Regions from separate parts of the Homo sapiens genome. Here region 1 is linked to region 2. Evidence: fine-mapped expression QTL. A gene starts in region 2. The other region holds a variant in brackets. All regions are shown on one strand. Distances are between the middles of the regions.

Evidence for each region. PIP is the estimated chance that this variant, and not a neighbour inherited with it, causes the effect.
Region 1: its variant is fine-mapped to the expression of VPS50 in pancreas (GTEx, PIP 0.95).

The regions. Positions count from the first base shown.
Region 1 is chr7:93,306,987-93,312,382 of GRCh38, reverse strand. VPS50 (VPS50 subunit of EARP/GARPII complex) reads right to left here. Exons shown (of 28, transcript NM_017667.4): 19 at 3,441-3,559; 20 at 1,111-1,217. Among named protein-coding and RNA genes, the nearest start is that of VPS50, 77 kb to the right of the region's middle. The variant C/T (reference allele first, on the strand shown) is at 2,444.
Region 2 is chr7:93,229,761-93,235,156 of GRCh38, reverse strand. VPS50 (VPS50 subunit of EARP/GARPII complex) reads right to left here and starts at 2,791. Exons shown (of 28, transcript NM_017667.4): 1 at 2,657-2,791. The coding sequence starts at 2,689. It also overlaps a transcript of HEPACAM2 not described here. RefSeq lists enhancers at 2,271-2,330, 2,571-2,620, 2,711-2,880, 3,021-3,090.

The DNA.
Region 1 (5,396 bases), 77 kb before region 2:
CGACTTCATGGCAACTTACACCAATGACCACTCAGCACTCTCCCAATTCTGATTCTACAAATTCTCGAGAGTTATTTCTGACACTATGTTCAGTCAGTTCTCTTGGAAGAAGAAGAAAAGCTTAGCTCCCTGGCAATAATTAGCCACAGAATAGCTTTTTAGAATCTATCCTTTTTTCTGAGCATCATGAAAAGGTATACCTTTCTGTTCTTCTCAATTCAGTAATATTTTTTGCTCTTTCTAGAGAAACCGTGACTCCTAAAAAGCATTCTGTACATTTTATCCTATTCATTAATTAAATTTAAGAATTATCTTAAAGAACACAGACTATTTCAACAGAGCTAAGGTTAATCAAACTAGGCAATAGGTAAATACCATCTCCATAGATAGAATATAGAGATTTTTATGGAAAACCACTAAAATTCCTGCTTGGAACAATGAAGTTTAATAGGAGAAGACATCTCTATAACTTATTTGTCAAATACATAGACTTATTTGTGAGATACAAAGGCTAAAAGCATACAAGATGTTGAAATACTGATTTTAAAAAAATCCACATCATCCTAAAACCTGAATATTTAAAATATCATTTCTTCATATTGTTTGCCTTCTACAAAATCATCAATAAAGGTCTTATCTGTTACAAAAACAACATTTCCTATAATCTGAACATTTAGCTTGTAAATCCCTTGTGTCTGAAAATGCCAGAAAGTCACTATTCACTCTGCCTGACAGAAGATGGTAAAGACCTATGAAACAACTAAGTACAAAAATATTGTATAAATGTGAAACTGGTACTAACTTATCTTACACATACCTCTAACCTACCTAGAGAATTTTTCATCGCATTTCAATTAACTGAAATATTTTAGAAAAATTGTAAGATACAAAGACTTAATAAACAGGTAACTGAAAAAGAAAAACTGGCATTACTATTAGTATTATAGTATTTGGAACATTTAAAATGAGAAGCATTGACATATGATAACCTTAAATCCCTCATTGCATAGAGCACTGGAGTATACAAGACAATAAAAACCACAAGTAAAAGTCATTCGGTAACAAACTAATTTAACTGTTATAATTTTTTTTAAAGGTGTAGCTACTTACCAACAAGTCTTATGACGTTCAATGTTGTATTTGTTAAGATAGGTGCATTCACTTTATTTAGACTGTAATCTGATTTCTTCCTGCTTTTTAGAGTTTCCCGAGAAACACTTGATATGGAAAAACAAAACAGAGTTGCTAGAGTTGTCAAGTAATAAACCAATAAGTTAGTCAGATAGGTCCCTAGCCTTTATTAACTAATTATTTAATGAAAATCTTACTATGCATTAGGTAAAGATATAGAAATTAACTTCTTATAAAATTTACAATCCATAAGGGAAATAAGTAAGCAAAAAAATAAAGTACCATAATGCATTTCTTCGATTATAAAACATTATCAACCACTAAAAAAGCTACATCTCTTTAAAAAACTGATTTTCCAGGATAATAATACATCTAGGTGCAAATGTACTGTTTCTTGATTTCAGAAACTTATGAAAAAATACCCTCCTAAGAACGTGAATTAAGTACAGAATATTGATGGCAGTATTTGGGGTTACGGGGCAGCATAAGGTTCAAAAGAAAAGTAAAAGCTATATGGTCAGCACAGAAAAAAGGGCCGGCATAAAATAGGGTCAGAGATAAGAGAGAACAGAGTGCGCTCAGAAAAGTACAAGGAGTTCACCACGTTCGCATGTAGAAGAAGTGAACAGAGGGAAAAGTGACAAGAAAGGAGGCAAGTAAAGGCCAGATATCTCTGAAAGCAATCAAACCTGAGGGATATGAACCTTATCTTGAACACAGTGGTGAGTCACTAAAAGCTAAGCAGAAAAACAGCATGATTAAATTTGTAACTATGAAAAAAAAAACCCCTAAATTTAGATCTAAGAGTTGTTTGGAATGGGGCAAGCCTAGAGACAAGAATCCAAGGTAAAGGAGTTGATTTAATAATCTGGCACAGAGATAACTTTGGCATAAACTAGAATGGTAGTGGTAAAATACAAGAAAAATTGGTCAATTCAAGAGACACAAGTTAGAACTGATAATATCTATTAATTTATTGGCTTCAGTTACTAATTTGTTCAATTCAAACTTCTTAAGGGTAAAAAGTTTAGGGGGCTCCAGTAACCCTACCAAAAATGGAGGTATATACACATGTACTGGCAGACACTATCTTACTTGTACATTTCAATTCAAATAGACCTTTCCTTTTGGCCAAAATATTCCCAAAACACATCTAATAAAGAATTCCAACAAAATAGTTCTATTCAGTTCACAGTAGATCATGCTGACACTTAATATCATACATACGCAAAAACCAATAGAACAAATTTTTTCAATTAAAATAGCTACAACTACGTGAATTGCTCACTTTTGAAAACAGAATTATTTCAGT[C/T]GAGATTTCAAGTTAAACAGTATTAAATAGGTAGCTTAGGGTTAAACGATAAGAATATACTTATCATTAAGAATCTATCATTAAGAAATCTATCATTAAGCAAAAAGTATATCTATAGTCACTAAATGTATGATAGTCATGAAATCAAGTCATTTTAACATTCCAGAATCAGGCCCATTTAACTGGCAAAAGGTAAGAAAAAATTCTCTTATAATTATCATAGTTTTGAAGAGGTCAGTTTATCATAAAACAAAACTCAACCACTAATAGGACACCTTGATAGAAGGTTCAAATAGTGAACAAAAATGACATAGGGGAAATAAGTGGCGACTTTCTGTGTTTATAAGATTGAAGCAAGAACTCCACATACAAAACAAATGACCATTTTCTCCTTGAGGATTTTTATTTATCTATGTAAAGCATAAATGGCCACCAAAGGCAGGATTGATTTTATAAATCTAAAGGCTTTTTCCTCTGCAAAAACTAATCTCTTTGATTATGCCCAATATTTTCAACAAGATAATAAAGTAATTTTAACAGATTTAAACAAATCACTAACTTTGTGATACCATAAAAAAGGAACTAGAATCTTGCTACAAAAAGCAATGTCAAACAAACTGTATAACTCAAAGGAAAGCTACATTAACACTAGCCACTTAAAAGTTTTTAAATGGCTAAATCAATTTCTTTTTTGACACATTAACAATCCAGTTCACAGTTAGATGAACTGATCTGTGAGATACCAGCAAAGGTTTTGCAAGGCAGAACTTTTCATATAACTATTTTAGTTTTCCTGAAATTCAGTTATGAAATGTTAAGAGGAACAACACATTTTTAGCCTTCCAGGAATCATTTTTTAAAACATACTAACTTCTGTCAGGTGACATTATAAGTACCAAAAAAAATAATTTTTGTTTCTTCTTAACCTTAAAGGAAATCCTATATGTTAAGAGCACAAGATAAAATGCTAAATACCACACAATTTAAGAACAATCACCTTTTCACAGGACCATCTCCTGTCTGCTCATCCACATAGTCTCGTTTGAGTTCCTCAGGAACATCACTGTCACTGTCATACTCTTGATAGGCACTCTTTTCTTGTTCATCAGATTCATACTGAAGAAAACACAGGTTATTAAAAAATGAGTATAAAGGGCCTCTTTTCGTGGGGTGTCTCAACACAGTGAAAGTACTCAGTTTTATAAGAAACAGCTAAATACAAGAAAATTCTTAATTTAGCTTTAATGTTGTCACCAAGAATCTAATTATTCTTCCATTGTCTTCATCATTCTACCTCAATCAGCACAAAAGAAAAATATTACACCTATAAAAGCTTGAAAATGTGCAACAAAATCAAATCGCCATAAACCAAAACCTAACAAACATTCCACTAGGCCTAAAGAGTATACATTCGCATTTTTTTTTCTTAAAGTCTCTCAGAAGTTTCACCATACTTATTTCCAATTTGCTAATAAAACTCATTAAAAAGAGGTTCAGTATCCAATTCTGGCATTCTGGAAGTATTACTTCAGCTTAATAAACACATGCAACACACATGCTGATGTTCTAATTCACTATAAAATTTAATTCCGAGGGCAGCTTAGAAAATTAAGCTTAGAACACAGGGACCTGCTGAGAATGAGGACAAAAATGGTGGATTTACTCTTGAGACAAAGGGTGTCTTCCTAACATTTTCATCATCTTTATGGCACCATGGCCCAATGCCAGCATGGGAAAGACAGTGGAATTCATGCACACAGTAAAGGAAGCAGTGACAGCACTTTCATCATCATCATCATCATCATCATCATCATCATCATCTATTAATGTCATAGATTAATACGATTAAATGGCTAACATTAATATCATTAAGTAATAGCTAACACTGAGTTTTTAACCAAGTATTATGCTAAGTGCTTTCATGAATTATCTCATTTAATCATACAGACACTTCTATGAGGAAGTTTTATCTCCACATGACAGTTGAGGAAACCAGTATGATAACAACATGGAAAGAATTTAGCCCCCTAATTCAACAACTATTTTTTGAGAGTCTGTTAATAAAAAGCACTATGAAAGGTCGTATTTAAATGTGGACCCTGATTCTCAAGGACATAAGTTGCACCTGGAAAGATCAGATCACACATTAATAACTGCAAACAAGCCTTACAGGTACTCCTTTATACTTATACACAATGTGATCCTGATGCTATGCAGAAAGGTATTCTACATAAACTAGGATGTCCTGATTACAACAACAGAGGTTTGTGACCACACCGTATCATAGATACTCATTATTTGAGGATTCAATGTTTGCAAATTTGCCTACTCACTGAAATTTATTTGTAACCCTAAAGTCAATACTTCTGATATTTTTGGAGTCAGTCATAAACGTGCAGAACAGTGAAAACTTTGAGTCATCCAACATGCATGTTCCCAGCTGAATACAAACAAGGCATGCTCTGCCTTCTTGCTTAGGCTCTCATACTATAAACAAGTTTCCTTTTCTTGACCTATTTAGTGCCAAGTGCTTTGTATTTTTGTGCTTTTTGTTGGTGATTTAACTGTTTAGAATGCCACTGCAAGTGTTGCGTTGAAGTGCTGTCTAGTGTTTCTAAGTACAAGAAGGCTGTGATGTGCCTGAGAAACAAAATATGTGTGTCTGATAAGCTTCATTTAGGCAAGAGTTACAGCGTTGTTGGCTATGAATTCAGATTATGTACTGATGGGCTGATAAACATGTCGTAACCCGAGGCTCACAGGAACCTAATCCTATATTTGCTCTGGGAGTAATGGTTCAGTATTTGCTAATTTAGTATTCACAGCAACTTTATAGAACACACTGCTGCAAATAATGAGAATCAAATGCTATCTAAGTTTTAATTAATGAATCACTTTTATAGAGAGATATATTATTCCAAAATAATTGGAATGACTTTAAATTCCTCTCGGT
Region 2 (5,396 bases):
GAAATGCTCCTTCCCAAATATCTACCTCACAGAGTTCACTTCCTCACCCCCTTCAGGTTTTTTTATATTACCTTCTCTGTGAGGCCTTCCGTGGCCATCCTATCTAAAATTATAAGTGACCTCAAATCACCAACAATTCCCAGGACTTTCTATCCTCTTTTCCTCTACAGTGTTTATCACCGTGTCTGCCTTAACACTTGTCTATTTTTTTTTTTTTACTTAGAATAGTACCTGGCACAAATTGCTCAATAAACATTTGTTGAATGGACTGAAAGAACAGAGGTGAGCATGATGGAGAAAGATGAAGAACAGATCTCATCTAAATAAAGAGAGCTAACAAAGCCTTCCTTCCTCCCATTATTTTGCAAACAAAGATCCCAGGACAGCTGAAATGTCCCAAAGCTTAAATTTCACAGACCTTAATTTCCTATCTCTCCATATTAACTCAATATATATTATTAGCACATTCTATAGGTTCAAAAAAAGAAATACTTTCATGTATACTTACTTGTAATCCTATTAAATTTAACCCAATAATAAACTGTACTAATTCAAACCCTCAATGTAAATAGCAGGCACACTAATTTCATACCTCATAGATTCAGGAACTGTGCATCAGTATCAAATATGTGAAAGTCAAGCCATAACATATATAATTAGGATAACTTTAAATATGTATGCAAAACTCCTAATTTTACCTCACTTTGTACACAGTATGGTTCCAGCTTTTTGTATGTGTTCTTTAATGTATTTTTTTCCATTTCAATTAAACACAGGTTTGACCTGCTGAAATTCAATAAGCAACTGACTAAGGCTTAAGTGTTACCATTTTCAGCACAATTGCATTACATTTAGGAGACATACACTTATCACTGCTATCTGAAATTTTTTTCTCTCCTCAGTTTTACAAAATGAGGTCAAAAAAACTAAACCAACCACAGCTACCATACAATTATGACAACGTTAACTACACTGAACTGTATGGCAGGCAACAAACTTGAGACAGCATCAAACAGCTGATGCACAAAAGTCCAAATTCAGCATTCCAAAGGCAGTTTAGAGGTATTAGTGATATAAAGTACAAAAGTATATATTGATTTAAAAATCAAACAGGTACCGAAGTCAGCATGAACTTATCTATTGCTTGAATTACTGCAACAGCCTGCTTCCAATTTTCCTGCTTTCCCACCATCAACATAGCCAATGTAACTAACGGTCTCTGCGTTCAAGCACTTCCTTGATAATGCCCAGGAACTCCGTTAACGCCTTAAACTCTTTAACTTCATTATATCATGTAAACACCACTATCAGGCTAACTCCATAAGGCACACATTATTCCTATTTTAAAGATGTGGAAATAGATGCTTAAAAACGTTATGTAACTTGCCGAAAGTCACACAGCTGCCACAGGATACAGCAGGACCCAAACTCATCGTCAAGTAAGAAGTAGTAGGACGCACAACACCAGTACTCAACACATGTGAGGAATTAACAAATGTTACTAGCCACTTACTTAAATATTTTTATTATTCACAGAACATTTTGATTATATTTTCATAACATTAACAAAATGCTCTGACATAACTAAAATAATCATGTAAGGGTCATTTGTGCATTGTGCAAGAGAAATACACAATTTGTATCCTGTTTATATATCTCTCAAATTGTGAATTCTCAAATAAGAATGTGGAATTTGAGTTATTTTTGTAATCAACAAGAAAAAAACTCACAAATATACCTTTCACTAAACGATTACCTTCCACATTCTCCAAACTTCTAAAAGCCATGTTGATTTAAAACTCTAATCTTAACTATCTTTCATATTAAAATAATAAAATGACCAATTCTAGTGAAATATTAAAGCTGAAGTAAATAAAGGCAGCTAAAACAAAGTCATAATCAATAAGTACATAAAAGAAAATTTCTGCACTTCTTAAATGAAGCTGAGGCATTATTACGAGGTCCCTAACATTTATGAGACAGGTTACAAAATAGCCAAAGCTCTTATTCATGAATTTCCATTCTGGGGAAAAAAAAGAAAAGATCAGTATTTTGCCATGACAAAAATAAATTTTTTAAAGCAGAATTTCACAAAGAGTTTTCACATATATTAGCTTATCGATGACCCTCATAACAGAACTGTGAAGTAAAATGAACAAAAATAATTATTTTCACATCCAGAAACGTAAGCTACAAAGTTTGGGGACTTGCCCAAAATCCAAAAGCTACTAATTCTGTCTTCAAATCATCCGTTTTCAGTCTTTCCAGGTCACCTCTACTGCACAGACCACACCACCCTACCCAGGCTATCAGCTCGCATATGACAGACAGCCTGGATGCGGAAGACCTTGCAAGGAAGCTCGGGCTGTTCTGGAAAGACGGCAAAAAGAGGAGGAGGGGAGACAAAGATACCCTGATTCCTTCAATGACTTATTTTTAAACGAATATTTCTGGGAGGCTGGTACCCGCTGGAGCAGTGCTCCAACCCAGGCGGCCCAGGTGAGTTTTCTAGGGTATGCCCCGGCTTCCCAGTCCCCCTGACACCTGCCACCACCCATAACTTAGATCCCCGCCCGCCACTGGTTGGGGACAGAACATCTCGGCTCCTCTCACTTCCGAGATGAAGGAAGCCTTTGCTTCAGCCGCCGCGACTTACCTGTCGGGTCATGAGAGATTTGATTTTTTGCATATCGAAATCCTGAGGAGGGTACCCTGCCTCAAAGAGCTAACAAATCACACCGAGCCACTACACAGCTGGCCCTGACACTAGGAAGCCATAGTGGGTGGTCACGTGGAGGAGCCGACCCAGGGTATCCTGTCTTTCCCTGGGCCTGCTGGGAACTGTAGTCTTCTGGACGCCGGCGGTAGCAACGATGAACTAAAGTGGCCAACCCAGGGACTACATCTCCCAGCAAGCAAAAGAGCGGGTGCTTCAGTTAAGCCGGTAAATATTACTGCTCAGAGCGACCACTGCGATCGCCGGTCTTACAAAGGTGCTTGCACTAGGCAGTAGCTACTCTTCGGCGAGACGGAAACCTAAGTCACAGGTGACTAGGCGTTGAGCGAAAGATCAAACTCAGAGGAGACAATATATAAGCCAGATTGACGCGATGTCCCCTAGGAGTGTGAGGGAGGAAACCTCACCTGGTCTAGAGGGGCGGGGTGGGAGAACGAGAGACTGACGCGAAGGAGAAGGAACTCAAGAAAGGGCTGTCACTGAGGGGTAACCTGAGAACTCGAGACTACCCCGGGCGCGCTGGGTTTGGCCTGAGGAAAGGTGTGCTCTAGGTTGCCCAATAGGCGGCCCTCCAGGTTTAGGGCTGTTCTACCTCAGTCTTGGTATCCCCTGCAAAAGCTCTAAAATCGAAGGATTTTGACGCCCGCCTATTATTTTACCTCCGTACTCTAAAGCAGTGATGACGGGAAATACGACAATAACGAGTATACCTGTCACTTTAAAGTCCTCTTTTCAACTTTTGGCAGTTTAGTTAAATTGGGGAAAGGAACAGAAGTGTCTTTGGGGACACAATTTTAAAAGGACTTTACAATTATGAGAATATGAGAAGAAGAAGAAAAAGCAGCCCTAAAGCTAACAATGATAGCTAACACTTATCGAAAGCCGAGTACCTGTCAGGAACTGCTAATAGCTTTAAATATATGATTTCATTTATCCACACAAGAATCCTGTGGGTTCCCATTTTAAAGATGACGAAGCAGGTATGGCGAAATTAAGGAACTTGCCTAAGATTACTGCAGATGTGCAAGTAGAAACTGAAGGATTAATCGGTCATCAGATGTGTTAAGATTTTCATGTATTGTGCTGAAGAAAGTTCTAAAGCATGGCACCAATTTTTTTAAGTTTATTTTATTATAATGTTAACTTCTAAAAGTATGACACAGACCCATAATTTCAAAAATATTTCTTAGAATAAAAAAAGTTCAAGTGTGTCAACGTAATAAAAAATACTAGGTAAACAATAGTATGGGTGGTAGTCAGATATGGCAAAACTAATAAAGGTGATTTGCAAATGACTGAAGTTTGGGGGACACTAACAGAGGTTATTTCTGATTCTGAAATTCTATTTTCTCACCCCTTAGAGCCTCGTTTTATTAATTTTTACAAATGAGGTTGTAATATTTTAATATTTTATATAGGGCTTTGTAAGGATAAGTGAGATGATGTAGGTGAATGAAATGTATAAATTGTAAAGCACTATACAATTATGAGGTATTATTGGTTTTGATTCTGCCCAGTTCTCTACTCCAACAGAACCACCTTGTGCATACTTGTATCATCACTGCGTTCAGCAATTCCTTTGAAATTATATGTTTACCTATATGCTTCTCTGACTCTGTTATTTCTAACCCCTTCAAGAAATTCTGGTCACATTTAGGGCAAGTCTAGTTTAGTTTATTCTTTACCTTCTCTAATCTTAATTGTCAGACTGTTCTTTGTGTGTGAAAATCTGCAATATTTAGAAGTCCCTGAAAGCATCAAAAGAAACAAAAACTGCCAGCCATATTAGCCTATAAAATAAAACCCAAGTCAATAAACATTTCTTGATTGTTGCGCTCAAGGCAACACTAAAATAAGCACTTTGATTAATAATCTATGGTTGTGGTCACAAGGAGTTCACAACTGGGTTTAAAAGCATATCTTAGGGGTGATCTGAGTTCAGTAGATCTCAAACCTGACTGTTCAGATTCACCTGAGGTGTGTGCTGTTATTATTGTTGTTTTCTTTGGGGATGTTTGTTTGTTTAAAATCTTCAGTGATTCTTAAAGGCAGTCCAGCTCTAGCATGTCAAATCCATGCTGTAAAGATGAGAAAACGTATCTGTATAAGGGTTCGAGACCACATATTTCATGAGAGCTTGATCTAGGACTAGAACCCAGATTCAACCCCGGAATTTTCTCCCTCACATACTCAAATACACAAAGTTAAAGATGATCCCCCCAAAAAGTTTTTTTTATCTAATATGTGTATTTCTATTGGCCAAATTCAGAAAAATGAGTGTTATCCCTATCTATTCGACACTGAAAACGCAAGAAAGTATTGAAACTTTGTTTTACTCCAAAACTCTACATTTTAGTTTATTTCCTACAAACTGGAGAAATGGATAAAAATGGATACAGTCTTCTAAATGTTTTAAGGCTATAACTATAATATTGAAAGCTTGTAAAGTAAATCAGCGCTGGTGTCTAAATAAACTATATTTTCTAATTCAGCATACCTTAACACTATATGAAATAATTGAACCTTACGTTATTCATTTCTATCTGTCTACGCTCAAAAAAACAAAAAACTTGGCATCCTAACAAACACTTTTTAAAAGGTTGGACATGCTGCTATTTCCTTTCCAATTTTCAAAAAGGTATTTATTTTTAAGATTTAT